7 linked regions of the Homo sapiens genome follow. The protein of the gene in region 7 purifies or fractionates together with the protein of the main gene of each other region. This does not show direct contact. Each region holds a gene or a part of one and is shown on either strand. Other genes may lie near its edges. The genes, in order: RIMS1, ASNS, TOM1, IVNS1ABP, RPRD1A, DHX36 and DZIP3.

Region 1 (4,617 bases), on a different chromosome or scaffold from region 7:
ATTAGGATTGCCTTTTAGATCTTTCAAACTTTATCACTTTGCCCACATTGCTTTTTGTGCTAAAAACATGTACGAGCTATTTAATGAGAGGGGAAAAAAAAAAAGAAAAGAAAGAAGGTAAATATAGTCTCAGACCAAGCCCTGAACTCATTTTACCTTTTAACTCCTTGTCAAATTCTCACACTGGGAGCTGCAACCCTGGCAACACTGCATTGCTAGCATGAAAGGATAGGTGGGCTCTTCTCCAAGAGCTCATCTTCCCAAGCCCCCTAGTACCTTCAAAGACTACTGGAAAATATAATCTTGGTGTTCTACAGTTTTAACAAATAAGCATAATAATGGCACCTTTCTTGGAAACAGCAATTTGGAGGATATGATGACTCCACTATCATTTTAAAGCTTCACAGATTAGAAGGACTGCCATTATAAATTCCACTTTACATATAAAATCTGATGCTTGGATGGATTATCTTGACAATGTTCACACCTATAAAAAGTCATAATGTTAAGACCAGAATCTAGTCCAGTGTTCTATCCAACTATCCAGCACTCACCTCTTTTTCTGACTACGGCAGTTTTAAAATGATAGGAACTCAGCCAACATTGGGCTGTAAGCAGAGGATTCGCCTTTATTCTACCCCAGCAGCCTAATGCCTGACCTAATTCTAATACCTGAAACAATGGTCTTGTTGAATTAAATATCATATGACACTTTGTTAGAAATAGCCTATTTAATAAATAAAATTCAGAACAATAGTGGCAAACAAAGATAACTCATGGTTAGGTGGAATGGTGGGAAAATGCTATGGTATTAGGGAACCCTGTGGGCAAAACAGCAAGCAGATAAGGAAAACTCCAGGTACAAATGGGGTTAGAGAGTCACCTGGGGCCAGAACTGCGGAAGCCAGACAGTTCTGGAGAGTCCACCCTCAGAAAAGGGTGGAACATGTTACTAGCCACATGAAGCTCCTCTCTCACTCCTTTAAGTTTTGTTCTCTGGACTCCAGAATCAAATGTCATGAGCAAAGGGTCAGGAAGATGCCAAGCTAGTTCTGGGAATTTCACTAACATTGGAAAACTAATAAATACTCACAGGCTAGAATTCTCTTCAAGAGGTGAGCCTGGGTGAGTAAAATTTGTAAAGCATCCAGTCAAATGCATAATACATAGAAGGTACACGATAAATGTTAGTTTCCTTTCCAACAGATGAGGGAAACAAATCATAATAGCCAGCACTCAATGCACTTTTTTAAAGACTTAAAAGAACAATAATGGTTTGAGGTCAGTGTACATGGATTCTGGATTCATTATGCTAGCTGCCACGTGCCTCAGGCAAATTTACTTTGACTCTCAGGACCAACTCTAAAATACCCAACTCACAGGACCAAATGTATAAAAGTAGAAAACAGCCCATGAGGACAAATTAAATGCAATACAATTGACTTTATAAGCCATGGTACTGCAACCTCATCCATCTGCTTATTACAGGTATGGGCGGATAATAATATGATTTTAGGAATTCATATTTGATATCTTTCCAGGAAGCTCACTGCACAAGTTTACAAAAATTGTTTTCCTCGTTTAAAAAGTTGAGCAAATAACATTCCCAAGACATTATGCTTCTATTAGTCAAGTCAGCAGTAGCACATCCAGCCCACACTGGTTTCCATATTCTCCTTCTAATTTAGTAATGTATTTACTTAAATAATGCCTTTTTCATATTTTGGGGTGTAAGATATTAAAATCTTTTCAAACCCTAATGAAAATATGATACCTGCATACATAGGAACGCTATCCTCATCCCCCTCAAGGTTCCCCAGATTTTCCTTCCACTTTTCTTCTTTTCCCAGTTGGTAACTGGGATCTCTCATAATGAACCTTATGGATATATTTCAGGCCACAGTATTATATTTGTGTAAAGTAAGTAAAAGGAGGAGGAAAGCTGAAGTTACAGGAATTCTTCTCATTCTACTTTCTCTCTCCTTTCCAGGAAAAAAGTAGTAATTATGGATGATTAGAAAGCAAATGCTAGGTGACCTGTTAAGAAGAGAAGGAGAAGCCCAAAGTCAATACTCTTTATAAATCAATTCATACCATGGACTGAAGGATTTGTAGGAAAAAAATGAAACTTCATACAATCTCAATTTAATTTTCTTGCCCATGTTTGCACAGTAAGTGGCAGAACTAGAACTAGAACCTAAAAACACTCGGATACAAACTTAATGGTCTTTCCACTACACTGTGATGCTTTTTATTACCTTCTAACACTCTATGAAAGAGTATAGGTGAAGCCCCAGGCTCTGCTGTGATCAGCAGCTGATCTGAATCAGCCTAATTTTTTGCCAAGCCACTTCTCTGCAACTGAGAAAAGACTATAAATTCATTTAAAGAAAATATAAATGAAATATAGGCTGCTTCTTGGTAGGAAGACAGTGTAGTGTACGGGAAAATACTTGGATTTAGACTAAAAGGTCTGATTTTGAATCATGATTGGACCATGTTATGTGAGTCAGTTTAGGATATTACTAAATTCTCTGAGGGTAGTGTGAGGATGTGAGAATTATATTATTTGGTTTACCTTCTGCACAGGCTATTGTGAGAATCCAAATATTTATACTTATAATAAACTTGAGCACAGTTTAACTATTTGGCATTAGATTAAATAACTTAAAATAAGAGCTAGTGTGAGGTTAATGTTCAATAAATGTTACCTATTTACATTATATTCCAATATGGTACTCGATTCTCATCCTCAAACCATCGCCTTAACTCTCTACATTTTTTCTCTTCTCTTACTATTCAGTAGCTGCTTTCTCTATGAAGTTTTTTTTTTTTTTTTTTTTTTTTTTTACAAAAAGGAGTAAGATCCTAGATCTAATGAGATCTTCTCTGATTTAGGTCCCAGATAATGCAGTTTTCAGCCTATGTAATATATTGGCTCATGATGTCTAGTAACAGTTACTTGAAGGAGTATTCATCGAGAAAGTTAGGTTTCAGAAAGCCTTCAGAACACACACACTCACATCCAAAACACTATTAAGATTAAGAAAAGACCTCTAATTTGCAGATAATTAAGTCAATCATTAAACATAATTTGTGGGAGCCAACTATTTCCAGTTATATGGCCATTAAACTTAAAATTAGTGTACTTTGCCAACAAAACGAATTCTTTTTATGATAAAGTACTTTCAATTTCAAATAAAATCTTCTAAAATCTTGATTTTAAAGTAGCTTGATTTTTTTCCATTTATACATATTTAAAGACATTCTCAAAGCCAAATTCAACTAGTAATTTACAATCAAGGCCGATGAAACTTACAAATACATTTTAATTGATATTTTATAATGTTGGTTTCACATATTCATCCATCATTTTCTATTTTCTCTCTGCGCCTATTTTTATACATTGTGAAAAGAGACAGCATGCACAGTAGGTAGCTTAAGGAGATAGTTCTGCACCAATAACACAAGTGAATTTTAAGTCTAATTGCCGTATTGCCAGAACTTAAGCTTTGTAGAGCGTTTTGTGAAAGTAATTTCTCAGATGTGTGATTATGATCACCCATAATTACCACAAAAACTTTTCTCTGATGTAACAATATTTTAAAGCCCTGTTAAAAGAATCCTGTTTTCCAATCTATTTTAACACAAAGTTTTAAAAAGGCCACCATCTATGACTATGTGTCATTATGTCCTCATATATATGTGTCATCTAAATAGTTCCCATTATCCCCAGTTTTTAAGACATAAAGTGTCCCCTATAAAAAAAAATTACAGCACTTTTCCACTAATTGCAGACAATATGACATGCTTACATGGCAGCAAACTGGGATTCCAAAACACTCACCAATCTGTCACTGAACAAAAGGCCAAGACATTAGCAGAGGAGGCTGATGGATAAAGTTAATACAGAGGTCCAGGATTATAGAGAGCTGTTGTATAACAGCATCATATACAGTGATATTTTGTGAATCCATGCAACAAAGGAACAATATATGCAAGCCAGTAGAAAGCAGTCACAGGAAAAGCAGCGGAAAAGATGTGTTAGACATGAGCAGTTGGACAGTGCTCCTAATTTTTATTTGCCCATATAAGCCCATACAATCTTATAATTGCTGTCCTTTGGCAGTTAGCAGGTTTGGAATTCTGTCCTAAAACTCACCCACTCCCACTTAAAATCCCTCACTCTCCACCATGCTTGAGACAGCCAATGAAGAGGCATGATGGCCACTACTTGCACCGTGCCTTCCCCTTCCTATCCGGACTCTGGCAAGCAGCAGCCTATATTTTCCACTAGCTACTGGAGGCCTCCATCCACCTGCTGTCTGCAGCAAACAGCAAAAGGAACAGCAGCAAACCTGTAAATCCTGACAAGCCGAAAAGGTGTTCAGGACAGGTGGCAGGGGCTGTAACCAGTGAGTACAGACGGACTGACAACCAGACAGACAGACAGCAGCACTATCAGACACCATCCATTACTTCCAGTCTCAGAAGAGGGGAAGCCTGCAGCACCAGGGACGTCATTCTTCCACTAGGGACAGGCAGCAGATTAACGAGGGTTCTGCCTCCCTCAAGCCGGCAGGCTTAAAGTATTTGATTTTTGGATGAGAAGGAGCA
Region 2 (4,179 bases), on a different chromosome or scaffold from region 7:
CTACTTCCTATTTTGTTTGGAGGGAACACATTAAGATTTGGCACACTCCACCATTGAGTAAATACCATCATGATAGATGTTGATGATTGTGTATTTCATTTCAATAACTAATCCAGCCCAAGATTTTCTGGAGCTGTTTGATTTACTGCTGTGTTTATAGGTTTTGAGATAGAAACTGTGAAGAACAACCTCAGGATCCTTTTTAATAATGCTGTAAAGAAACGTTTGATGACAGACAGAAGGATTGGCTGCCTTTTATCAGGTGAAGTCAATTAAAAAAACCTAATTATATTTCATGTGTGTTTAATTGAAATGATTTGTAGCCATCCCTTTGGTTTTTACTATAAAATATTTACTGTATGATTTACTCTTTCCTTCATTATAGGATGGAAATGATTTTTTATAAGCTGTATTTAATAGTCATAGTCATACTCCAACTTGAGTTACACTATAGCTATGTTATTGGTGTTAAGAGTGAGTCAGTGAATGTTCTTTAGAATTCTGTGTAGTGATTTTTAACCAATTCAAATACTACTATTATCACAGTTTATATATTTTTCTCTTGTTGAAGTTGATTTCAGTTTATAAAACTTGGCGGATTTTAAATAGTAAAACTATGATCTTGGTGTTTATCAGGAATATACATCTTCTGTCCCTGTCTTATGCAAGGCACATAACTAGGACACTTCCACTTCCTCTTTTGCATGTAGGGGGCTTGGACTCCAGCTTGGTTGCTGCCACTCTGTTGAAGCAGCTGAAAGAAGCCCAAGTACAGTATCCTCTCCAGACATTTGCAATTGGCATGGAAGACAGCCCCGATTTACTGGCTGCTAGAAAGGTAAGGTGCTGTCTCTGTCCCTTGTGTAGTGTAGTTAGAGTAGACTTGTTATTAGAATGAAAATGGAGTCAATAATGGGTGATTCTACTGCTGCTGTATTGACTGGGTCAATTGTTTTAAATTGATTGTATTAAAATAGAATGAAATGGCTGTTGGATATGCACTGTGTTGTACACTGTCCTCTGTGTACTTTTATCTGTTATGACCCATGCAATTCTCACAAAGACCCTATGATGATAAGTATGCTCTTTTGAAAGTAAAGGTGTCTGGGCATGGTGGCCTACACCTGTAATCCCAGCACTTTACGAGGCTGAGGGAGGTAGATTACCTGAGGTCAGGAGTTTGAAACCAGCCTGAGCAACATAATGAAACTCCATCTCTACAAAAAAATACAAAAACTAGCCAGGCTTGGTGACGCATGCCTGTAGTCTTAGCCTTATGGGAGCCTGGGTGACAGAGTGAGACCTTGTCTCAAAAAAAAAAGAAAGTAAAGGCATAAGTCAGGTGCAGTGGCACACACCTATAGTCCCAGATACTTGGGAGGCTGTGGGGGGAGGTCTGAGCTCAGGAGTTCAAGTCCAGGCTGGGCAACGTAGCAAGACCCCATCTTGAAAAATTAAAAAAACGGGTTTTTTGTTCGTTTTTTTTTTTTTTTTTTTTTAAACGTAAAGGCATAGTATCATGGCTAAGACTGCAGACTTTGGAACCTGACTTGTGGTTTGAAATCCTGGCTCTACTCATTTATGTAACCAAAATAATAGTGTCTGCTATGGGGAAATTTTAAGGTGAAATGATATAATTCATGTAAAGTAAGTAGGGTAGAACTTAGCATGTAGTAAGTACTTAATGAGTGTTAGCTGTTATTATTATTTTTGAAAGTACTGTATTTAGAATACTGTGGGCAGAGGGCAGCTTGTCTGTATTCAGTGAGCGGGAGACCTAGTTCCCACTATGGAGGACTTTCGTAGCATGGATGAGAAAAAGCTAGAGAGCAGTCTCAGTGCAAGGTAATCAATGCCGAGAGAATCCAAAATAGCCAAGGAAAGCAGAATGAGGGGAAGGGCCATTCTATATAAGAATAACATCCTGGATATAAAATTAGGCATTTAAGAAGGACCAAAAAAGACCAAGCTTAGCGTGGGACCATGTTGGACTAGAGAGAGATGAGGTGGGTTAGGTAAAATAGGTAGAGAGGGAGGTGCCAACTGGGAGAATGGTTGAAGCCTTGGCACCAGAGGAGCTGAGGGGAGACTTACTTCCTGGTGGTGGAGTTGAAGCAGGCGAGGGAACAGTGCTGGATGGGGCTTGTATGTGGTGGGCTGTAAAGTCATTTTTCTTTTTTTCCCTTGTTTAGTTTTCACCATTGTTAATTCATAAAGCTTTGTGAACTCCCATCATGTTTGATTTTCAAGGGAAGTTATTTTCTTTAACAAGTAAATGGGTATTTCTTTATATAATAAGGTGGCAGATCATATTGGAAGTGAACATTATGAAGTCCTTTTTAACTCTGAGGAAGGCATTCAGGCTCTGGATGAAGTCATATTTTCCTTGGAAACTTATGACATTACAACAGTTCGTGCTTCAGTAGGTAAGGTATTATGATATTCTTAAATAAAAAGCTTTTTTTAATACTGAAAAAAATGTAAGGTTTAAAAAAATTATTTCAAGCCATAGTTTTAAAATGTTATTTAAGGATGAATGCAAATTAAATCCCTATGTTACTGATTATTTAAGACCACTTAAGAATTCTCTGAATCTCTTTTGGAGTGAAGGGAATAGTAAATACGTAGTTCAACCTCCACATTGTTGGTGTCACTGTTGGTGTTTCCCCAGGGAGCAGATACATATTTTCTGCCCTCTACCTCCCATTTCTCTTATAGTTTCTTGGGCTACAGTCTATATACAGTGAGGAAATAGGTCTTTTTGGTAATGCATTTTTGATAAGAAATAGTCATTTTAGATATATTCCATCACACAACTTACCAGTCACTAGCTATCATTGCTCTGCAAACAATACTAATTTTATCTTGTAGATAATGTATCTACTGAGATTGGAAGTATACCCCAAATCAGACTGATCCAGTGTTATTGAGCCTTTATATGCTACTGCCTCCCTTGAGAGACTTGCCTTGGAAGGCAAAAATATCTTAGGTATTACAATGGTTTATGGCCCTCCAAAACATCACAGTAAATAAGCAGATAGACAGGATAGCTCTGGTATTGGAATTTCATGGGGCTGGGGTGAGGTTAGGAAAATAAGTGTCTAAAAAGGCTCTCTAGCTGAGGTGATAATAAAAACAAGGTTGAGAAGAAACACTGGTTTAGAGAGATGTGGTGCAGGACCAAGGAGGCAAGTTTAATAACTTATATAGTCTCCCCAGCTTTATGTGAAATCTGGTAAATGGGGAGTGGCAGGGGGAAAATACCCATCAAAATTAACACTAAACCACCAAAACGGTTATTCTTATTTTTGTGTCATAATACCACTATGAAAGGCATGATTTTTAGGTATTTGAGTCATTGTTCAGCTTAGCAAAGTTTTGAGGTGGACATTCTTGGTCTAAAAACATTAGAATTTTAAAACCTGTTTAGAAAATGACAAAATGGTTCCGGGTTATTTTATTTTACAGTAGTACTTTTGGATTAAGTACATATAAATGGCTTATAAATACAAGGTCATTATTGTGGAAACTACTTTATATTAATATGAAGTCCAGTATAGTAGTAAAGCTTTCAATTATTTCCAAAAATCAAATCAAAGGCATTTTTGGTGGAAGGTTATGTTGACATTAAAGTTAATTTCTCTCTCTCATTTAAGGTATGTATTTAATTTCCAAGTATATTCGGAAGAACACAGATAGCGTGGTGATCTTCTCTGGAGAAGGATCAGATGAACTTACGCAGGGTTACATATATTTTCACAAGGTAACCACTCTGAAGTGGAGGGATATTCATGCTATATTAAGAAAAGTATGAATTGTTTGACTATTTTCTATCATCTTTCAGTATGACAGTGATATTTTTGAGTATCTTGTGAGGTTACAAAAGGGAATCTGATAGTGTTTGCTTTCTATCTCTTGGGGAAGAAAGAAATTTTAATGTGTCAGATAATTTTTATTCTTTAAAACTAGTTACAGCTGGGTATGAGGGCTCATGCTCATACCCCCAGCTGCTGAGGAGGCTGAGGTGGGAGGATCACCTGAACCCAGGAGATTGAGGCTGCAGTGAGCTGTGATTGCACCACTGCACTCCTGCCTGGTTGACAGAGTAAGACCCCGTCTCTTAAAAAAAAAAAAAAAAAAGTTAAAAATAAATAAATAAAACTACTTAAGCTTGAGAAT
Region 3 (4,617 bases), on a different chromosome or scaffold from region 7:
AGGGCAGAATCCCAGTCCTCTAGTGGGAGAGAGAGAGAGGGCCTGCAGCGTCCCTCCCCGCCTTGTGGGGAGCCACCCTCCAGGGCCTTGTTAGCTGCTGTGTTAGACCCAGGAGATGCTGGAGTCTTCCAGCCACACGTGGTGGCTCATTCCGGTGTGGAGATGGTAACGGTTGGTAGCGCCTCTGTGAGGGGTCTGTAGAAGGGGTGGGGCAGGCCTCTAGTGCAGAGCTGTCACTTTGGGAGCCAGGAGGGAGGCTGCCTAGAGAGGCTGCTGGGAGGTCGGCTCCCTGGTGCTGCACCCAGGGTTGGTGGTACTGGGTTCTGTCGCTGTGAGTAACATGGGCCCCAGAACCCTGGCTTCTCTCACCACGATCAACTGTGTGTTTCAGATTGGGAAGCTGCGCAGTGAGCTGGAGATGGTGAGTGGGAACGTGAGGGTGATGTCGGAGATGCTGACGGAGCTGGTGCCCACCCAGGCCGAGCCCGCAGACCTGGAGCTGCTGCAGGTGAGCAGGTGGCACCACCCCCTGGGGCTCAGATGACTCCTGCCCAGCTGCCCACATGCATTCTTTCCCAATCCTCATGACAGTCTTCATGGCTTACTCCATACTCCTTGGTCACAGTTGGGGACATGTTACCACCAGGGACTTTGGACGCCATCAGATTGGAATCAGATCGCAGCTCTACCACTTTCTGGTTTGAACAAAGTAGCCCCCCTGGCCTCAGTTTCCTCATCTGTAAGATTGCTCTAACAATAGCCTTCATGGCACAAGTTTGATGTGAGTTAAATAAGGTATTGCATGAAAAACACGCAGGCTTGTGCCTGGTACAGAGTAAAGCACCCAGTAAGGGGTCCTGAGAAAAAGCTGGAAGGTGAGATTTACACCATTCAGAATCCGAGACTCAGCAGGCAGGTGTGAGAGGGTGGTGCCAGCCTTGAGATGCGCCAGCCACTGATCTTGGGGAGCCAAGGCAGGTGGAGCTAGTGGTTCCTGCTCCCGGGTGTCACATGGTATTCCCACGGCCCCAGCCCAGATTGGGGGTCACTGGAGCAGAAGGGACACTGAATTTGGCAAAAAGCACCCTCCCCATGGAGGCCAGTCATAGAGGCACCAAGAGAGCTAGGAATCCCCAAGGCCCAGGAGTCACCAGAATCCATGAGGAGACAGAGCGCTTCGTGTAACTGTTCGAGTTCCTACTGCTCGTCCACCAGGCCTCAGGCTCCTTGAGGGCAGCGCTGTGTCTTCCTCGCCACCGTGTCTGTGTGCCTGACCGAGCTGACTCTGCAGGGGTCCTCACTTGGTGGTGCAGGGTGGGGAGAAAAGGAGTAGCCTCAGAGTCCAGTGAATACACAAACTTGAAACCCAGTAAGGGCTCCGAAAGAGAGAAGACTGCGCAGGCAGCCTCGCACGCCCCAAGCCAAGGCCATGAGATGTGAGCAGTCTGGGGACTCAGAAGGCTGAGCAAGGTGGATGCAGGGACAGCTCCCATGCACTGGGCACTTCCCGTGTCCCGGGCTATATGTGGACACTTGGTTCACATCGCTCACGTAATCCTGACCACCCCCATTTTCCAGGTCAGGAAATAGGCATAGGGAGATCAGATAACACGTCCAGGGTTATATGGCTGGTAAGTAGCAGAGCTGCGATTTGAACCCGGGGGCCTGGCTCCAAGTGCTGCTCTTCTGCTCTTGAGAGGGGCCAGCAGGGAAGCAGAAGCAAAGCCACCGTGTGCTTGGTCATAAGAGCAGGAGGGGAGCCCACAGGATGTTGAAAGGCACCCGCCCTGTCCCCGTGCTAAGGGCGATGAGGAAATCCCGGAGGCCTGACCTTGGAGGGGGCAGGGGACAGGGTCCACATGACAGCCAAAATAAACACTGGGCAGTGCCGAGCCTCAGCGTTGCCTCCAGGAGAAAGGCGTGCTGGCGTGAGGCCACAGTCGGCAATGCCGGGCAGCTCCCTGGACCTCAGGACCCAGGCACCTGCCGTGACCCAGGAACCTTCACCTGGTGGCAGGTACCTGAAGAAATAATTGACCAATCTTAAAAATGAAAACCCATATGGCTATGGTTTTTTATTTTTTTATTTTTTTTGAGACGGAGTCTTGCTCTGTCACCCAGGCTGGAGTGCAGTGGCGCGATCTCGGCTCACCGCAGCCTCTGCCTCTTGGGTTCAAGCTATTCTCCTGCCTCAGCCTTCCAAGCAGCTGGGATTATAGGCATACACCACCATGCCCGGCTAATTTTTGTATTATTAGTAGACACAGGGTTTCACCTTGTTGGCCAGGCTGGTCTTGAACTCCTGACCTCAGGTGATCCACCCGCCTCGGCCTCCCCAAGTGCTGGGATTATAGGCACGAGCCACCGGGTGTAGCCATTTTTTTTATTTTTCATAAGTTTAAATATGACACCTAGTGGTTAAAAGTCGGTGACGTGATAACTAAATGCAGTGTAGGATCCTAGAACAAACAAAGGACATTAGAGGAAAAACTAGTGAAACCTGAATAAAGTCCGCAGTTTAGTTAATAGTATTTTACCAGTTTTAATGTTTAATGGTAGTTTACCAGTTTTGACAAATGCCAGACTAAGGGGAAGCCAGGGTCAAGGGTATATGGGAACTTGTGGTACTATCTTTGCATCTCTTCTGTAAATCTAAAATTATTCCAAAGCTAAAAGTTTGTTTAAAAAGACAAAAAATCAGGCAGTGAGAAAAGTGAGGCAAAAACTCGAAATCGAGGTTTGTGGCTAATGGTTGCAGTCATCTAGTTCATTCTGTATGCTTTGGTTGCAAAAATCACAGCATACCCCCAGAAGTTGTGGTTTGTTCAGCCAGCCCCCTTTGCAGACTCAGTTTTTTTTTGACTAAGCAAAGATGGTGGCACAACCTTTATTCTGGAATCTGCACGAAGCCAAGTTAAACCGGCAGCACAGTTGGACATGTTGATGGTTTCCTGTGGATTAAATTTTAGCATCTAACACTTGGAAGTGAAGTTCAAGTTCATGTTTGTAGAACCCAAAAAGCTGTTCCGTGGAACCTTGAAGTCCAGTTTGGGCACCTCACCCTCCTCCAAGGCTTGTGCAGGGGCTGGAGGCCCGTGCATTAGAGATGGCCTCACTTGGCCAGGCGCGGTGGCTCACGCCTGTAATCCCAGCACTTTGGGAGGCCGAGGCAGGCAGATCGTGAGGTCAGGAGATCGAGACCACCCTGGCTAATATGGCGAAACCCCGTCTCTACTAAAACTACAAAAAAAAAAATTAGCCAGGCGTGGTGGCAGACGCCTGTAGTCCCAGCTACTTGGGAGGCTGAGGCAGGAGAATGGCATGAACCCAGGACACAGCTTGCAGTGAGCCAAGATCGCACCACTGCACTCCAGCCTGGGCGACAGAGCTCCGTCTCACAAAAAAAAAAAGAGACGGCCTCACTCTGAGTCATGTGACTGTGGTTGCCTCACTTCCTTTCCTGGCAGGAGCTCAACCGCACGTGCCGAGCCATGCAGCAGCGGGTCCTGGAGCTCATCCCTCAGATCGCCAATGAGCAGCTGACAGAGGAGCTGCTCATCGTCAATGACAATCTCAACAATGTGTTCCTGCGCCATGAACGGTAGCCCCAGCACCTCCCCTGGCCTCTGGCCTACTGCCCCAACCCTCTCCCTTCCCTTCCTCCCTGTTCTCCTGGTCTCATGCCATCTGAGCCTTCTCTCGTCCTCCTCTCAAACACAAGGCAGGCTCCTAAGGGCCTGTGCCCTCAGCTGTCTTCTTCCAGGATGTTTATGAGGGCCCCTCCTTCCAGCCGCCCTGTATCTCCTTTCCAGGGTTAGCGCTGCTGCCTGTGCCCAAGTCCAGCCCTGGGAGATGGTCACAGGTCACAGCTGAGAGCACGGCCCTGCAACCAGACTGGCCTGGTGTGTCCTCGCCCACTCCACCACTTCCTGGTTCTGGGGCCTTAGACAAGTGACTTCACTGCTGCAAGCTACACAAAACATTTCTGGCTAACTTAGGCAGAAAAAGAATTTGTTAGGATAATAATCTTTATTAAATGGGTAGCTTTCAGAATCCAGAGAAAAGTGAAACTGATGTCTCCCAACAGAACAAGAAAGATGGATCCCAGGGCAGCTCAGATGTCTCAGGAGCAGAAATTCCTGGACCATCTCCCCAGGGTGCTGCCATCAATAAATACATCAGCTCAAACACTTGTCCACAAACACCTGTCCACCTTTTTTTTTTTTTTTTTTTTGAGGCACGATCTTGCTCTGTCACCCAGGCTGGAGTATAGTGGCATGATCACAGCTCACTGCAGCCTCAACCTCCTGGGCTCAAGCAGTCCTCCCACCTCAGCCTGCCAGGTAGCCGGGACTACAGGCATGCACCACCACACCCAGCTAATTTTCTTTTCTTTTTTTTTTTTTCTTTTTGCAGAGACAGGGGTCTCACTGTGTTGCCCAGGCTAGTCTCAAACTCTTGGCCTCAAGCAGTCCTCCCTCCTTGGCCTCCGAAAGCATTGGTATTACAGGCATGAGCCACCACACCCACCTGCCCACCTTGTATCATTCTGTTCAAGAGTCACATCCCCAAGAGAGACTTGGATTGGCTGAGCTTCATTGTGCCTACCAGCTGGGG
Region 4 (3,295 bases), on a different chromosome or scaffold from region 7:
GAGCCCCTATACAAAGATTTTCCAGTTTTAACAAATTTAAGACCCTCTCAAACTAACAGGCTTAGTGATGTAATTATGGTTAGTAGAGGTACACTTGTGAATAAAGAGGGTGGGTGGGTATAGATGTTGCTAACAGCAACACAAAGCTTTTGCATATTGCATACTATTAAACATGCTGTACATACTTTTTGGGTTTATTTGGAAAGGAATGCAAAGATGAAGGTCTGTTTTGTGTACTTTTAAGACTTTGGTTATTTTACTTTTTGGAAAAGAATAAACCAAGAATTGATTGGGCACATCATTTCAAGAAGTCCCCTCTCCTCCACATTTGTTTTGCCAATTTGCACATTAAATGACTCTTCCCTCAAATGTGTACTATGGGGTAAAAGGGGTAGGGTTTAAAGATGTAGACAGTTGGGTTTTTTAAGGGCCCTTTTTCAATAACTGGAACACTCTATAACAAAGGATACTTATTTAAATAGATGACATTGACTATTTTTGTTTTTATTAAAAGGAAGCTTACATGCCTACCAATATTTAATCTTTTATGATTGCCTTTTTATAACTTTTTATATTCTCAGCAGAGTGCTTTACCAATTGAAGTAAAATGTGGCAGGCTGGAGTTATTGAAGCAGAGTGGCAGTCTTCAGTTTGCAGAGTAGGGGTCTGTCTTTTAAACTCTGAGTGCAAACTTCAGAGTTCTTGCCTTGGCTGCAGTTTTTTTCCTTCAAGAATGCAGTACTAACATTTATTTGAGTGGAGTTACTGAACAGTAACATAGCTGTGATTTTTGGTATTTGAAACACTGGTTTTAAATATTTTGACTTGTTGAGGGTATGTTTTATATAGCAAGACATTATATAGCAGTAAAAAATGGTGTTTTATCTTCTATATAATTCCTGTTTTTATTATTAACAAAACAGTCCTAAATAGCAGCCCTCAATTGTGAAAAAATTTACTTTAAACTACATTAGGTTGTGAATGCAGGTTTTATCAGAACTATGTTTTTGTTCAGTTTATCTGTTCATATGGATAAATATTGGTTGGGATGACTTGGTGTCTAATGTGTAGTGCTACACACCTAACTTATGGGGCCAAAATAGCATGTCCTAATGCTTGCTGCTGATTTAAACACATTAAAGGTACTTTGCAGGAAATCCTTGCACCATGGGATTAATATCCAATTGCTGCTTGTACACTCATTCATTACTAAAAGTTTTGAGAAATTTTTTTTTCCAGTAATGAGCTTAAGAAATTTGTGGAAAATAACTCACCTGGCATCTTACATCTGAAATAAGGAATGATATAAGGTTTTTTTTTCTCACAGAAGATGAAGCACACAGGAACCTAATGGGCCAACTGGGATGAGGTGACTATTCTGAGATGACTATTCAGTGGCTAACTTGGGTTAGGAAGAAAATAATTAGGTATTTTCTCCAAATGTTCACTGGTACTCTGCCACTTTATTTCTCTCATCTGTTACACAAAGAACCACCAGGAAAGCAAATCAGTTTGGTTGGTAACTCTGTAATTCCTAACTATCACTGGTTTGGTTCTGGACTAAAACTACATTGACAGATTGAATTTGCCTAATATGATGACTGTTTTTAATATGGATCTGTATGTGTTCTATTCAGCACAAGGAAATAAAATTTTAGTTGAGGATTCAGCACTAAAATCCTTGAGATCACTTCTCATTTCATAAGTGACATGCTTAATGCAAATAATATATGGGAATACTTTGGGTCAAAGTTTTCCTGCATTACCTTGGATGCCAAAGAGGTAGTTTGGTGGCCAAAAAGTATCTTTTTTTAAGAAGCTGTTGTAGCTAGTCTGCATGAACATGAGAAGTTTCCATAAAGGAAAAAAAGCAGTGCTCAGTGGCCATTTGTTACTGTTAATCTGTATCTAAAAGGTACATACTTTCTTCAGAGAGGGAGAAAATGGCATAGCCTCAGCACAATTTAAAAAAAAAAAAAAGCTTTTTAACCAGTAGGAATTTTTGAATAGTTTCAAAATAATATTGATAATACCACACTTCTGGTCAACTTAATAAAACACTCTAAATTTCCTAAAAAGGTAGAAAAGCTATAAAATATCTAAACCAAATATTATTGGTTATACTCGGGTGGATCTTTTATTATGAACTTTAAATGTAGGGTTCTGATTTTTGGCTTCTAGTGTGTCATGTACTTTACCACTGCTCAACATGTTTTCAAATTCCCAATATAATAATCATATTTTAGGGAAAATCCAGGATTTGAGTATGTGATATATCATTAGAATCCTTGCTTAATTAACAAATTAGGTGTGTGCCCTATTACCTCTCCTGACCTCAGAATTCTTAAAATTGAAGTAGGCAAAGGAGGAGCCCCAGTAGGACATTTCTGTAACTGCATGCAGAGTTGCCTTCAGAAAAGTGAATATGATTCATGGAAAATTCAGTTGCTGTCGTAATTTACACGCAGCTGCTTTTTGTTCCAAAAAAAAAAGGTCTGAAGAGTCAGCAAGTGAGACATAAGATACAAGGTTAATTAACTAGGTGTAAAGGAGAAAGAAAAACACTCATATATGAATCCTTAAATCCTTGGTAAGACTGAGCTACAAGTTTCATCCTATAAACAGGTTTTATTAAGTTAAATCAGTGTCTCTAGGTTAAAAAGGAGTAATTGCTATGAATTGCAGATATCCTTCATAATAAAACTGCCAGTTTCTCAAGAATATTAATGACACTTTGAACAAGTAGAGTTTATAAACAGGAACATACAAACTCATGTGAATGTCATGGGTTCTTCAACCTATGAGCATCAATAATCTTGGCCAATAAAATAATGAACTTTATTAACAGCTCCACACCTTACTGGGTGGAGAGAACAAAGGTGAGAAGCAAAACTCAATCATTATGCTGGATCTGTGTGGAATGCCTTTAACAGAGGCATATATCTGAATAGAGGCCACACACTTGCTCAGGATGACCAAAGGAAGTAACATAATTTTAGCCAGAAAAAAAAGGCACACAGAAAGACCTAACTTGGAGTAATGAAACTACTGAGATGAAATGTCCAGCAAGGTAATAAGATGAGATCTGTTAAAACGATTTTTAAATGGGTAAAATATTTGAAGACACTTTGCAAAAGAAGTTGATGCCATAAGAACACAGGAAAATACTATCATAAATCATTAAGAAAATGTAAATTAAAACCAAAATGGCATACACCTATTGAAACTGAATATACCAAATTCTGCTTACGATGCAGAGCAACTTGAACTCTCATACATTGCTGGAGGAACTGCA
Region 5 (4,617 bases), on a different chromosome or scaffold from region 7:
GAATCATGAGGCTCTTAGCCAAAAATGATTTTCTGTCATGAGTTATTACCAAATAGGAAGAGACATAAATCTTAGTGTTTGGTTGTTCCAAATGTAACATTCTTATCACTTTTCTATTCAAGCTCTTGTCCATAGTGGCCAATGGGCTTCAGCATTCCTATCACTGAACAAACAGGTAGGCTGACTCAGGTCGTGGCCTTGGTCTGATTCCTTCTGCTTCTCCAGTACTGAGACTAATATAAATCCACAGTTACAGGTAGTAATTGATTGTATTTTTCTTTCACCTTCATGGGGGAAAGAGCTCCTCCCAGCCTCTGATTTTATTCAGTGAATTTGGAACCAGTCCTCTAACTCCCACGGAGCACTGTGAGTTCCTGTTGCCCTTGTGAGTTCCTGTGACCTTAAAGGATACTAATTTCTGGCAACCCCATGTCTGCTTCGGGACCAGGGCTCAGCAGGAGCCAGGTTTTGTCTCACCTATGAAGTTAGGTGTACAATTTCTAACCCATGAAAATACATTCGCCTTGTTTTAAGAGTATGGTTATGTCTTCATTTTCTCATTTTACACTTTATCTGTCCCGCCTACATGTTTGAAACATAGAAGGAGGAAGCTTAAAGACTCAATGCCCACTTAAAAAAAAAAAAAAAAAAAAGTCTTTCTGGAATTAATCTGATGGTTAAGGAATACCATACCATACCAACATGTAGGAGGACACAGAGTGTTAAGATAATAATTCTAACTTATTTTTCCACAGAATTACATAGTTCTATATAGTTACAAAGAAATGTATGAACACATATATATCACTCTAACACTACTTTTTTTTTTTTTGAGACGGAGTCTCGCTCTGTCACCCAGGATGGAGTGCAGTGGTGCTATCTCGGTTCACTGCAAGCTCCGCCTCCCAGGTTCACGCCATTCTCCTGCCTCAGCCTCCCGAGTAGCTGGGACTACAGGCGCCCGCCACCACGCCCAGCTAATTTTTTGTATTTTTTAGTAGAGACGGGGTTTCACCATATTAGCCAGGATGGTCTCGATCTCCTGACCTCATGATCCGACCACCTTGGCCTCCCAAAGTGCTGGGATTACAGGCGTGAGCCACTGCGCCCGGCCACTCTAACACTACTTTTTACATTTAAAAACAAAAATACTTAAAGGGGCAGTGATTATGTCCAAGAATGAAAATTTTAGTGTATTTAAATCATACATGAGCCGGGCACAGTGGCTCATGCCTATAATCCCAGCACTTTGGGAGGCCAAGGTGGGAGGATCACTTGAGGCCAGGAGTTCAAGACCAGCCTGGCCAACATGGTGAAACCCCATCTCTATTAAACACAAAAATTAGCTGGGCTTGGTGGCCCGTGCCTGTAGTCTCAGCTATTTGGAAGGCTAAGGCAGGAGAATCGCTTGAACCCAGGAGGCAGAGGTTGCAGTGAGCCAAGATAGTGCCACTGAACTCCAGCCCTGGGGACAGAGTGAAACTCCGTCTCAAAAAAAAAAAATCACATAACAAAATAGGCATGTTTTGTTTTATTTTAAAAAGTTTAAATAGCTAACATCTCACATCTAACCATATTTGGCAATTAAAAATCCTCTTTCTATACAAAACATGATTTCTATGCAAAATATACAATATACAACATACTACATTTAACATAAGCAATTTGTTAATGAGGAAGAGATATTCATGTGGCTTCTTTCTTGTACCTAAAAGTATAATAGAAATCAATTTACAGAAGTGAAACGAAATTAATAAAGCTTGGTGGCAACATGAAGTAAAAGTTTGTAACTCTTTTAACAGGGTAAAATTTCTACCTGTGGTGGTTCACTTGGAGATCCCAGAGAGGAACAGTTTTCATTTTCATCCACCTTTATCTGTTCATAAGTTCGCTTCCTAGGCTTCTTATCACCATCTGAAATGAAAGAACATTTAAGTATTAATGAAAGAATACATTTTAATGAAGAGATCAAGGTAAGAGATCAGGATTCTACACTTACACAGAGCTTGTTTAAGTTGTTCTAATACATCATTTTCATAAACAGACCTTTCTTCCCAAATAGATAACACTCTTCCAAGGTGCTTCTTACAACTTTCATCAGTTTCACTAAAAAAAAAAAAAAAGAAAAAAAGAAAAATGTTAACAGTAACAATGCATAGTGTTATTGAAAAGGTTAACGGTAACTTTAAATATAATCAGACATTCATTCCCTGGAAAAAACTGTCCAAATGTCTACTTAGCATCACTATGTGGCCAGCAGCTCAAAAGTGAAGTGATCTAGACACACTGCTTGCTTCTAGTAAACATTTTATAAACATATTATTACACAACCAAAAAAAGTTTAAACTGTAAAAGTTTTAGTACTGGCTGCTAGGGATTTCCTATCCTAATGGGGCCTGGACATGGGGCTAAGGAAGATTTCTCATAGGTTATTTTTTTAAATTTATTCAACAAATACTTATTGATCCAGTTACTATCTTTGACATGGAGATGCAAATGCAGCTTATGGCAGTTGTTATTTATAAGTATCACAAAAGAGAACAAAGTGCTTAAGACAGACCTGGCCCTGTTTAAGAGATATCCGGAAGAGTATTTAAGGAAATGATATTTAATTTGAGATCTTAAGACTAGACATATGGGGAAATGAAAAACAGACTACTCCCAACTGTTTCCTACCTCCTTCATTGCTATCACTGTAGACAGAAACACTACTATCTCTTGCTTAGAATTTTGTAAAGTCTTCTCACGCTCTCCCAGCCTCTACTCTTTTACTCTATTCTGTACAAAGCATCCTAATAATGTAAATCAGATTATACAGCTCTTGATCCTCCAAGAGCTACCAATCACATCAAGAATAAAACCAAAATCCTTACTCTGGGCCATAAGGCCCACATGCTCTGCTTTCTGGCAGTCCCTCAGTACACACTCCCTAATACCTAGTACCATACAAATCTCCTTGCTAAGGTCCTCAAACATGTCCAGCATATAAGCTATCTCATTTTTTCGGCCACATATTCTCTCTACCTAGAATCCTTTCTGCCTAGTCAAATGGCTCATTTCACCCCTTCCTTTAGTCTTTGTTCAAATGCCACCTTCCCCAAATAGTTGTTCTTTATCTCATCACATAACTGAGCGCCCTCATACTATCTAGTTCCTTCCCTGCTTTGTATTTCTTGCTAGCATTTGTCATCTGACATTATGCATTCACTTGTCTATCTACTTATTAACTTTGTCATCCAATGAAATGTAGGCTCCAGTAGAACAAAACTGTCTTGGTCACTACTACTCAGGGTTTTGCATATAATAAATATTTATGCAGCCAATAAATATTTTACTGAATTCTAGGGAGGGGCAACATATATAGAAGACTTAAGGCGGAAAGAACTAAAAAAGGTTAATTTAGCTTAAACTGTAGACTATAGACTGTGTGGAATAAATGCGAGACAGAGGTCTGGGGAGATAGGCAGTGCCACGAAGGAACACCTTAAGTCTTGCTCAGGACTTTAGACTTCATCTCTAAAACAAATGGGAACCACTCAAAGGCAAGGAAGTATTATGACCAGCTCTGCAACTCTGTCGAGTTTTCTAAAGAAATTAAACAATACTAAAGGGCATTAAAATTATACTGAAAATACATTATGGTAACTAAAAGGGAAAGAAATCCAAAGAACCGAGTCAATGTGTACTATGTGAGATATGGGGACTGAAGGAGAAAGAAGAGTTTAAAGGTAACATAATTTCTTGCATAGGCACCTGGATAGATCGAGTTGCCATTCACAGAGTATAAAACCTACAGGAGGGACAAGTACGGTGGGAAGCAAGGACATAATGAGTTCTGTATCAGACACAGTGAGTCTGAAATGTTTGAGACGCATACAAGTAAAAATGTCAAAAGGCAATTGGGCACACAGGTTTGGAACAAAAAAAAATCTGGACTGGAGCATAAAACTGTAAGTCATTACGGTGTGGAGAATAACCAAATACATGCGATGTACAAAATTACCCAGAGGGCAAGTAAAGAATGGAAACAGGCCAGACATGGTGGCTCACGTTTGTAATCCCAGCACTTTGGGAGGCCGAGGCAGGTGGATCACGAGGTCAGGAGTTCAAGACCAGCCTGGCCAAGATGGTGAAACCTTGTCTCTACTAAAAACACAAAAATTAGCCAGGCATGGTGGCAGGCACCTGTAATTCCAGCTACTTGCGAGGCTGAAGTAGGAGAATCGCTTGAACCCAAGCGGCAGAGGTTGCAGTGAGCCAAGATCGCACCACTGTACTCCAGCCTGGGTGAGAGTGAGACTCTGTCTCAAAAAAAAAAAAAAAAAAAAAAAAAAGAATAGAAACAGTACTAAGTGTATATGGAAATATTTGTTACAAGACTGATAGCTTTATAAACACACAAATTTTTACTTCAATACCTTCATTCATTTTTAATGAAGTTCATTCCAATATAGCAGTTGGTTCTGGTCTCTTAAAGGAAAGCTGTAATTCAAGTACTCCAAAGGCCCACCTTAGCAACAGTTCAAAAAATATTTTTCCTTCAGAGAAGGCATTTAATACATTTATAAATGCCATGTAGAGGGAAGTCTTTTCAAATAAAAGCATCAAAAAACTATA
Region 6 (4,617 bases), about 46 Mb from region 7:
GCAAGATCCAAGTTTGGAATTAAGGTATGTTCTCTGCTACCTGCAGCATCCAGAAACTCATTGTGGGGAGAACATCATTAAAAATACAAATGTTTTTATTTAGAGTGTAAATTACATTTTCAAGGGCTAATCATACATGCTCATTGTAAAAGATTCAGCTGTTCATTCCTTCCATTGACAGACTTCTCTGGGGCACATACCATGTACCAGAATTATATCTGGCAGAGACACTGCAAGAAGTATAGGATATGGAGAGTGAATAACCTCTTTTCAAATTAATAGTAATAAAAACAAGATCCTACTACACAACTGACTTATTTAATACTTTGGTCATCTTTCCTGTTTATATACTTGCAGAAAGATCTACCCACTGTTAACCACTGGGTGTACTACAATTCAACTAATTCCTTATTGATTAGCAGATGCTTACTTGGTACATATGCATTGTGTAAGGTATCTTAAAGTCTACCAACTGATGTTGACTTTTTAATGAAAATGAATTTTGTTGTGATAGTTTGGACTGGAAGATTGTGTAGATCTGTTTATTTTCAGTAGACTGTTATGTTATCCAGTAATTCACCTTTTCCGGGGGCGTGAAATCTCATAAAATTAGAATAATCTTTTGTGCTGTTACGGGCAGGAAGTGGGCAATGTATTGTGAAATGTCAATCTAGGAAATTGTTTACTAAACAAAATATAGAGTAATGAGTTAACATGGAAAAGTGAGAACTGTAGGAATAGCAGATATAGGTTATATTCTAACTAAACAGATACATCAAAAAACCTTAAGAGGACTTTTAGTAGAGACATTTTATGTCCTGACAACTGAAATTAGCCACTCATTTTCACTTCAAAAAAGGAGGTAACATATAGTTCATTTGCTTTGCTTCTTCAGGTTTGTTGTTTTATCACTGATTTCTCATATTTATTACATTAGGTTATCCTCCTACCCATGTAAACTTATTTGAGCTTTCACAAAGCATGTAATACTGATTAGAATTAGAATGTCTTACAAAACCCTGTCTCTTGTCTTAAAGATGCTTATGTCTTGTTCTCCTGGGACACATACTCCTCTACCCACCCTGGGTTTTCAAACTTTATGTTAAACTTTGTTGTGACCAGCTATTTTGGTGTTTGTTTAATTGGGATAGAATACAGTGAAGAGAAGATAAGAGTTGCACTGTACAGAGTAAGGGAAGTATTTTGTGAAATTACTTGTATATGTGTGTACTGGGTCATTAGTTTTACTGTGGATTGCTATAAAAAATAAACAATTGAAATCTATTGCTCTAGATTTTACAGTATTTTACACATTGCTGTCTGCTTTCATCAGTCTCCTTACCCTAGCTCCTGCTTCCCTCTTTTTTCCCCAAAAATCAAAACCAAACCTCAAAAACCAAAAATACCTTGAAGATCATTCCCAACTGCCTAGTTGTTGGATACAGTAGTAATTTTTTCAGTTCTCTGCCTTACTTACGTCCATTTTATACTTCTGAGTCCTTTTTTAACACCTTTCTTCACTTCATAGGAGTGGTTTTCTCACTGTGTGCTCCTAGTCTTTTGTTTGTTCTCTTGATTACTCCTCTGACTTATTTTCTTGCCTTGGCCCCGTGAATGCCAGACTTGGTCATCCGTCTGTCCTCATCTTTGGAGGTGGTATTATTTGTAAATTAAGAGAATTCCTGTGTCTCTGTGATTTCAACTTTGCAGAACACTCCAAAATTTCTATCATAACTCTAAAAACAAAACCTCTCAGAGATCAATTTCCATATATTCATCTACCTAGTCATTATTACAAGTCGGGAAATTTCATCTTTGTTCTTAATTGCCTAAAATCCAAACTTAGCATCCTATTGTGACCTCCATCACCACCACATGTACACAAAAATGTACAGTAACACAGAGCAGCTTCCTTTTAATGATTCATCTTACTGCTGCTCTCTCAGGATCCACCCTTGAATTTGAAAACAGTTCTTTGATTCTTTCTTCCTTTTTGTCTCTCCCCAACTTCCACCAAATAGTCATTAAGTCCTGTGGTTTCTTTCTTTCGATTTTTGACTGTTTTCTTTCCATTTATACTTTTACCTTCCTCCTCCTTTGGTTCTTTAACCTAACACACTCTAATTTTCACCACTCCGCGTGTGTTTCCTTTTGCCTGTGGATTTATATGCACGTTAGAACCTAAGGTTTGTAGTCCCATAAATTTTGAAGAATCTGTTTTTCAACTTTTCAACTTACTATATCTAAATATAAAAGTCTCCAAAGAATTGGGTTTTGGCATTCATTCTCTTTTTTTTTTTTTCACCTTGGACATTTCTTAGATGCGTAAAGTTTCTGCAAAGTTTCATAGTTCACCAAGGACCTTTATATTTGTCCAGTCTGTTGTGTTTTATTCTCATTCTTTGAAGCAACTGCGTCATTTGCCACATTGGATCACCTTATAAGCACTGATGAATTTTATTTACTCCTTCTGAGCTCAGCCTTACTTACCAATTTATTCTTCTGTTTAGTGTAAGAACTTTCAAATGTTCATTACAACCAAACTATTTCCAGTTTTCAACTTTTTTCGTAAACCATTTGAGTTTTAATAACTTTGAAATTTTAAGATAAGGAGAAATTCATAATAATTAGTATGTGAGGGTTTGGGGTAAGAGAACCAGAGTTGTAGGAAGAGACATAAATGAGCTTTCTTTGCCAATCATATTAGGGCTAATTTTATAAATGCTTGTTGGAAAAGGTCTAGAAGGATATGTACGAAAATTTTAACAATTAATTAGGTCTAGGAAGGGGGGTATTGGGCTAGAGGACACCTGTGGATAACTTTCTTTTATATGTATTTGTTGAACATATATTACTTAGCCTTTATTTTCTTCAGTATCAAATAATTTTTGCATATGCTTTCTTATGTTGACAAGGATGCTTTTTTCTTTGCACAAACTAGAGAGCTGTAGTACACATGGATGAACGACGAGAAGAACAAATTGTACAGTTACTGAATTCTGTTCAAGCGAAGAATGATAAAGAGTCAGAAGCACAGATATCCTGGTTTGCTCCTGAGGATCATGGGTACGACAAGAAATATTTTTTTAAAGAATAGGCAAAGAGTAACACTTTAATAATAAAAATAACATCTTTATTTTCTTCGATAAGTGAATTTTAACCTTTACGTACTTTTTTTCCTTATGTAGATTAAACAGATTTAGAAAATGACTTTTAAAAATTTAGATGGCATGTTTCCATAGGAAAGCTAAATGGTATGAATAATAGTGTATCTGGATATGAGATGTATTAAGTTGTTATTTATTGTTCTCCCTACCTGTCCTCTTTGTATTTATGAAATTATTCTGTCTGGGAGATCTGCAAGAAGTGAAATTGCTACCGTTTTAGAAAGATTACAAGAACTGTATCATTTAGAGGAAAAATTAGTACAAGTATTTCAAAGACTGTGTATTGTAGCATCCTATTTGTAGCTCAGAAAGGGTGGCAAGAAAAAAAGATGTTGTGACATAAAACAAGTTCGAGAAATCCAGAAAAAGAGAAACACTGTAAGTAACCGCAGTGAAGGAATGACTATTCTGTGGATTTTTATTTTTAACTATCACAAGGAATAACTTAATCTGGCAATATCTATTTAAAGGGAAGAAAAATTTGAATTTATTATAAGAATCTAAGTATATTTTCATAATTACTGTACTAAGAGAAAAGAAAAGCTTTGGATTTGGATGACTTTGAAATATTTCAACAGCGTATTGTTTTGTTTTGTTTTGTTCCAGTGTTTGAGTGGCTCATCTGACCTTTCTTCCTTTCTTATTTTGTCAAAACAGATACGGTACTGAAGTTTCTACTAAGAACACACCATGCTCAGAGAACAAACTTGACATCCAGGAAAAGAAGTTGATAAATCAAGAAAAAAAAATGTTTAGAATCAGGAACAGATCATATATTGACCGAGATTCTGAGTATCTCTTGCAAGAAAATGAACCAGATGGAACTTTAGACCAAAAATTATTGGAAGATTTACAAAAGAAAAAAAATGACCTTCGGTATATTGAAATGCAGGTAGTAGAAAGATGTCAAAAAATATTTTGTCATTTTTTTCTTACACTTTATAAAAATGTATGTATGGTTAGAGGTAGCTGCATGGCATAGATCAGTGAGATCCTCAACAAGACATCCCTGTGGGAATTAATTTCTTTTCGAATGGTAGAGAAAAGCAGTGGGAATGGAAGTTACACATAACCTACAGTATCCTATCTCATCCACAGAAGCTTATGTGGTGAGAAGAAATGTTTGAGAAATGCTAGTGCCAATGAAAAAAAAACTTACTCTTCAGCTTTTCTAGGCCAGTTTAGTGAGGTGCCATGTGCAGTAAAGGCAGTTAAAATTGTAAAGCTTGTTCCAGATTACTTAATACATCTTCTTTTTATAGATGATAAAATTAAATATTTCAAAAATTATGTGATGTGCTTTGTTCACTAACATTTTAAATACAGGACTATCACAACACCTGAGATCTCCTGAATTCTGATATTTTCTTTCTATGCTAGGCAAGATATTTTAAGGTCCCTTTCAGTTAAAACATAAAATTGTGTGATTTGTGGGTGTTCTAGAGATGTA
Region 7 (4,617 bases):
CAGAACTGCAGAGTTTGCAGAATACTAAGTTTTGTAATATGGGAATTATACCGGGGTGTGAACACAGGGCTAATTGTTCATTCATTCATCTCCTGTATATTTAATGAACACTTGATGCTAGGTCCATTTCTAGGTTCTGGGAATACAGCAATGAATCAAATAGACAAAAATTTCTGCCCAAGTTGTTTTCTTATAATGGAGGATATAGACAATAAGGCATATAAGTAAAATTACATGAATGATAGCGGTAAGTATTAGGGAGTGAAAAAAGGGAGGAGGAATAGGAAGTATCAAAGTCAGGATAAGGTGTTACAATTTTAGATAGGATGGAGTACTAATTGATGTATGCCAAATAACAAATCACCTCAAAACACAGTGGTTGAGACCATGAGCGTTTATTTCTTGCCCACAGATTTGTGGTTGACTGCAGTTTGTCTGCTCCAGGCCTGATTTGACTGGGTGGCTGTGCTTCAGCCTTTTCGTGGAGAGGGGCAGATACCTGGATTTCTATTTAGGTTATGTTGTGATGTTAGACATCCAGGAGAGATTGAGTAGGCTATCAAATTACTGGTAGTTAAAGGAGCGGTCAGGGTTGGAGATAGAAATTGAAAGCCTTGAGACTAAATGATATAGGACCAAGTATGGATAGAAAAGACTTTTTAGGACTGAACTCCCTGATATTTAAGTATTTAGAGGTTGGAGAAGTGTGGAGGAACTGGCAAAGGAGACAGAAGTTAACTGCAAGAAGACACAGGTTCTGTCTTGACGCCATGGTTGCCTACAGGTACCAGCTTTACTTGTAGCATATGAGCTGCCTCTTGACTTCTAAAGGAGAATTTTAGGTTGGCCAAGAAGGCTGTTACAATCTACACACGGGCTCCCTCTTTACATCTGCCTTCAGAGGCCTTGAGGTGTGCAGAAGGGTGGGTGAGTTCATTTTTTAAAGCAATATTGAGTGCTTAACGTGTGCCAGGTGCTATTCTAGGCACCAAGGAATGAAAACAAAGTTTTCCTAACTTCATGGGGCTTATATTCTAGTGGGGACATGAAGCCAAATCTAAAACTGAGGGATTATTCAGTAGACATAAACGGCTGGTAGAACAAAAGTTTCACTGGCCCAGTTTCTAAAGCATGAAATCAGAAATCCTGCAGTAGAAAATTGGCACAGGTCTAGGCATGGGGTCATTTAGATAACCATGTGCCCAATATAGCTAAAATAATTCAAATGCTAATATTAATCTGATTCTACCCCTTATGCAGAGTCAGGAAACTAAGTGTATGATTAGTGTCAACTCATATTTTTCAGAAATGTTACCTTTGTCACAAAGCCAGAAAATCTAAAAAAAATTAATTCTCCTTTTACAATTATTTTTCCTGTTTTCTTTCACAAGTATCAAGTATTACAGTTCAGCTAAACTCTAAATGATTTGCCCAACCATGAAGTTAACTTTCACTTTTCAAACAGTTTCTGCTTTTTCTTTTTATACATTTCACAGCATTCAACTTTAGGTTAAGAGTACAAGGTTTGAATATTTTGAGTATATATTCCCCCATTTTCATATCTTATACCACATCTCAAATCTAATCACATCTATCCCAGAATAAGAATGTTGCCTTGCCTTTTTTTTTTAATGCAAGTACTATCCATTGTTTCTGAATCCAGTGTTAAGTATAAGTAGAGTGTAAGTAAAGATGAAAATGATATACTTTTAAGTTAAGGAACAGTAATCCTGGTAATTACTATTTCTTGAAGACCTATCTTCAAGATAGGTGCAGAGCATGGGTCTTTGCTTATCTCACTTTTAAATTTCTGGTCTTTCAGAAAATAAATACTATCAGGCTTATGAAATGAGTGGATATCTATTTCCTGAATTAAAATGTGAAGCTGTTTTCGAAGACAGTAGTGTCCAGAGTACAGTATGCACACCTCAGGGGATATGTGAAACTGTCCATTGAGGTGTGGGAACAAATATTAAAACGTTTTTTACTTGCTTTTATCTTATTCTTTTTTTATGTTATAATAATTATGCCTGCATATAATTTATAAGTGAATTGATATTCTTATATTTTCAGCATATTCTCAGATCTTTTACTGTTTTAGGGCTATGTGATCAAAAAAGTTTGGAGATTTCATTTTTAAAAATCTTTAACTTTGAGAGATCATTTAGCCAGGTGTGAACTATTGTCCATTTCATTGTTTATTTCAGTACCATGTATAGTATCTGAATTGTTTTGTTGAATAGAAAAACTCTTAGCAAAAACTAGTGTGACTAGTGACTATGAAATATTAGGCTGGCATGATTAATAACTTTTATAGTATTACTAAGAATGTGTAAATAGTTTCATTTCTGAGTATGCATATGTGCATATTATCTAGTCCAGCTCATAATTATACACTAAGCTTATATAAAATTAAATATGTTACTAGAAGTAATGGGACATGGAAGAAAATAGAATTGCAGTTGGTAAAATTTGGGCATGAATTTCTGCTCTTACGGATTTATTAGCTATGAGACTCTATAAGCCTCAGTTTCTTAATTTTTAAAACTTATTACAATAATGTTTATCTTCCATAGTTGTGTAAAGATCAGATGTTTATTCAAGGTGCATAGCTTAGAGCGTGGCACATAGGAGCTGATGAAAATTAAGCTTATTTTCAATGCAACCCAAGGTAATACACTCAGTTAATACTATATGAAAAGAAACTCTTTATAACCAAAAGCTCGCTCTGCCTTCTTACCTACACGCTTCTTACAAATGTATGCTTTTCTGAGATAACAGTGAGCTGCCAATTTTCTTACATGGGGTGGAGCAAGCTGGAGGTGGATAGGGCAAGCTTTCATTGGTGGTGGTAGAGGCAAGTACATGAAAGAAGTATTCCCATTCCCTATTTGATTACCATCTCTGCGTGCGTTATGTCTCAGGATTCTCCCTTCTTTTCTCATTATCTAACAACTATAATGACAACATAATATTTTTAAATTGCTGAAAATATTCCACCTTTGGAGTATGTGCTTAGGGGTAGCATATGCTTCTTCCAGTGGTTTCTAGCTACGTTTCTGAAGAGTGTGGTTTTAGCAGTGCTATCTGTAAATGTTTGAAACTGATGGCTTGTTTAGTATCTGGATAGTTTTTCAGGTAAATCCTAACTTGTGCATATTCATTGTAGGCACATTCCAACTATTCAAAACAAATTAATATGTATACTATAGGTTTACCTGTGTAAGTCCAAAAGTAACTAATTGAATAGATCTGAACAGAATTTAAAACCTGCTTAAGACAAGATGTTAATTTTGCTTTAGGAAAGGATGTTTCCCATGTTGGCAGATTTGTAACAAGGGGTGATGAGTATACATTATAAGGCACTTATTTCCTGGTTTAAGCAGATATATTGCTAACAGTGATCTTTGCAAAGTGGCAAGAGCTAACATAAACAGTGATCTTTTGGGATAGAAAATATCTTCCAGTTTCTGATAACTTTTGCAAAGATTTTTCCACCATCATCCATAAGTTCTGGAGTTTGAATAAGCAAACTGTATGTTCTTTGGGAGCAAATAATATTTTAGCTACTGGTGTCTAGGTGTATTTATTTTGTAGCTTTACCAGGAAGTTAAACAAATTAAAAAATGGAGAAATTAACAGTAAATTATAAAACCAAGTAATCAGTATATTTTGTTCATACTAATTATTGCTAATACAAAATAATGGTGCAACTTGTTAACTTGTTATTCTTTGAGTCTAACCTAATGGCCTCAGCCATTTTTGTCTACACAGAGCTCACTAACATACGAGAAATAAAGACTTTCATAGTGCTGTAACCACAGAACAACTGCACAGTGGACCGAATGTTTGTGTCCCCCCTCATTCAGTGTTGAAATCCTAACCCCCAATGTGATAGTATTAGGAGGTTGGGCCTTTGGGAGATAAATTAGGTCATGAAGGTGGAGCCTTCATGAGCAGGATTGTAAAAGGCCAGAGAGCTCTCTCACCCTCTTTCTACCATGTGAGGATACAACCAGAAGTTAGAAGTCTGCAGCCCAGAAGAGCACCCTTATCAGAACCAACTTTGCTGACACATTGATCTCAGACTTCTAGCCTCCGGAACTGTGAGAAATAAATTTCTGTTGTTTCTATAGTACTTTACTATAGCAGCCCCAATGACTAAGACAGTCATTTCAAAAGCCACAAAGAATGGCTAGTTATTGCTGCTAATCTAGCAGATGTACTCAGATCAACAATAGTTAAAATTCTGATTCCAAGGAACTCCTATCACAAAATGTCCTGCCATGTTCTTTGAAAGTGTTTTCTTCAGTGTTTTTAAGGGTTGAAGTGACCATAGCATCTTGATGTGTCAACTTTGAGGAGTTTTTTGGAATTCTTTTGGTAAAATTTAGCAGAAATGATAACTAGCAGTGTCAGAGTCTGCTTGTTAACAGACCCATGATCTTCTGGAGTACATTTAATTCAATGTTGAGTTAGGAAATCCAGCTTTTCAAAATAGCTATCAAAATTTTAACCAAGTTGCATGTTCAAGGTGGTGGTATTACAGCATTGTTTGTAATAGCATTTTTTTTTTTTAAAGTCAAACCTAGAGACAGCTGAAGTTTTTAATCAAAG

What was found.
Region 1: the proteins of DZIP3 (region 7) and RIMS1 purify together in Homo sapiens (co-immunoprecipitation; one large-scale study listed by IntAct). This does not show direct contact.
Region 2: the proteins of DZIP3 (region 7) and ASNS purify together in Homo sapiens (affinity purification with mass spectrometry, with the first as the bait; one study listed by BioGRID). This does not show direct contact.
Region 3: the proteins of DZIP3 (region 7) and TOM1 purify together in Homo sapiens (affinity purification with mass spectrometry, with the first as the bait; one large-scale study listed by BioGRID). This does not show direct contact.
Region 4: the proteins of DZIP3 (region 7) and IVNS1ABP purify together in Homo sapiens (affinity purification with mass spectrometry, with the first as the bait; one study listed by BioGRID). This does not show direct contact.
Region 5: the proteins of DZIP3 (region 7) and RPRD1A purify together in Homo sapiens (affinity purification with mass spectrometry, with the first as the bait; one large-scale study listed by BioGRID). This does not show direct contact.
Region 6: the proteins of DZIP3 (region 7) and DHX36 purify together in Homo sapiens (affinity purification with mass spectrometry, with the first as the bait; one study listed by BioGRID). This does not show direct contact.

Annotation. Positions count from the first base shown.
Region 1 is NC_000006.12:71,888,804-71,893,420, reverse strand, and holds part of RIMS1 (regulating synaptic membrane exocytosis protein 1), read right to left. Parts: intron 1-4,617. UniProt on the Homo sapiens protein: Rab effector involved in exocytosis. May act as scaffold protein that regulates neurotransmitter release at the active zone.
Region 2 is NC_000007.14:97,854,937-97,859,115, reverse strand, and holds part of ASNS (asparagine synthetase [glutamine-hydrolyzing]), read left to right. Parts: intron 1-160; coding exon 161-262; intron 263-710; coding exon 711-838; intron 839-2,299; coding exon 2,300-2,426; intron 2,427-3,656; coding exon 3,657-3,763; intron 3,764-4,179.
Region 3 is NC_000022.11:35,326,880-35,331,496, forward strand, and holds part of TOM1 (target of Myb1 membrane trafficking protein), read left to right. Parts: intron 1-391; coding exon 392-508; intron 509-3,467; coding exon 3,468-3,601; intron 3,602-4,617.
Region 4 is NC_000001.11:185,294,771-185,298,065, reverse strand, and holds the end of IVNS1ABP (influenza virus NS1A-binding protein), read left to right. Parts: coding exon 1-31; 3' UTR 32-1,678; downstream 1,679-3,295. UniProt on the Homo sapiens protein: Involved in many cell functions, including pre-mRNA splicing, the aryl hydrocarbon receptor (AHR) pathway, F-actin organization and protein ubiquitination.
Region 5 is NC_000018.10:36,028,992-36,033,608, forward strand, and holds part of RPRD1A (regulation of nuclear pre-mRNA domain-containing protein 1A), read right to left. Parts: intron 2,107-4,617; coding exon 2,000-2,106; intron 1,915-1,999; coding exon 1,817-1,914; intron 1-1,816. UniProt on the Homo sapiens protein: Interacts with phosphorylated C-terminal heptapeptide repeat domain (CTD) of the largest RNA polymerase II subunit POLR2A, and participates in dephosphorylation of the CTD by RPAP2.
Region 6 is NC_000003.12:154,314,488-154,319,104, reverse strand, and holds part of DHX36 (ATP-dependent DNA/RNA helicase DHX36), read left to right. Parts: intron 1-2,941; coding exon 2,942-3,066; intron 3,067-3,824; coding exon 3,825-4,059; intron 4,060-4,617.
Region 7 is NC_000003.12:108,595,781-108,600,397, forward strand, and holds part of DZIP3 (E3 ubiquitin-protein ligase DZIP3), read left to right. Parts: intron 1-3,996; exon of another isoform or gene 3,997-4,106; intron 4,107-4,617. UniProt on the Homo sapiens protein: E3 Ubiquitin ligase proteins mediate ubiquitination and subsequent proteasomal degradation of target proteins.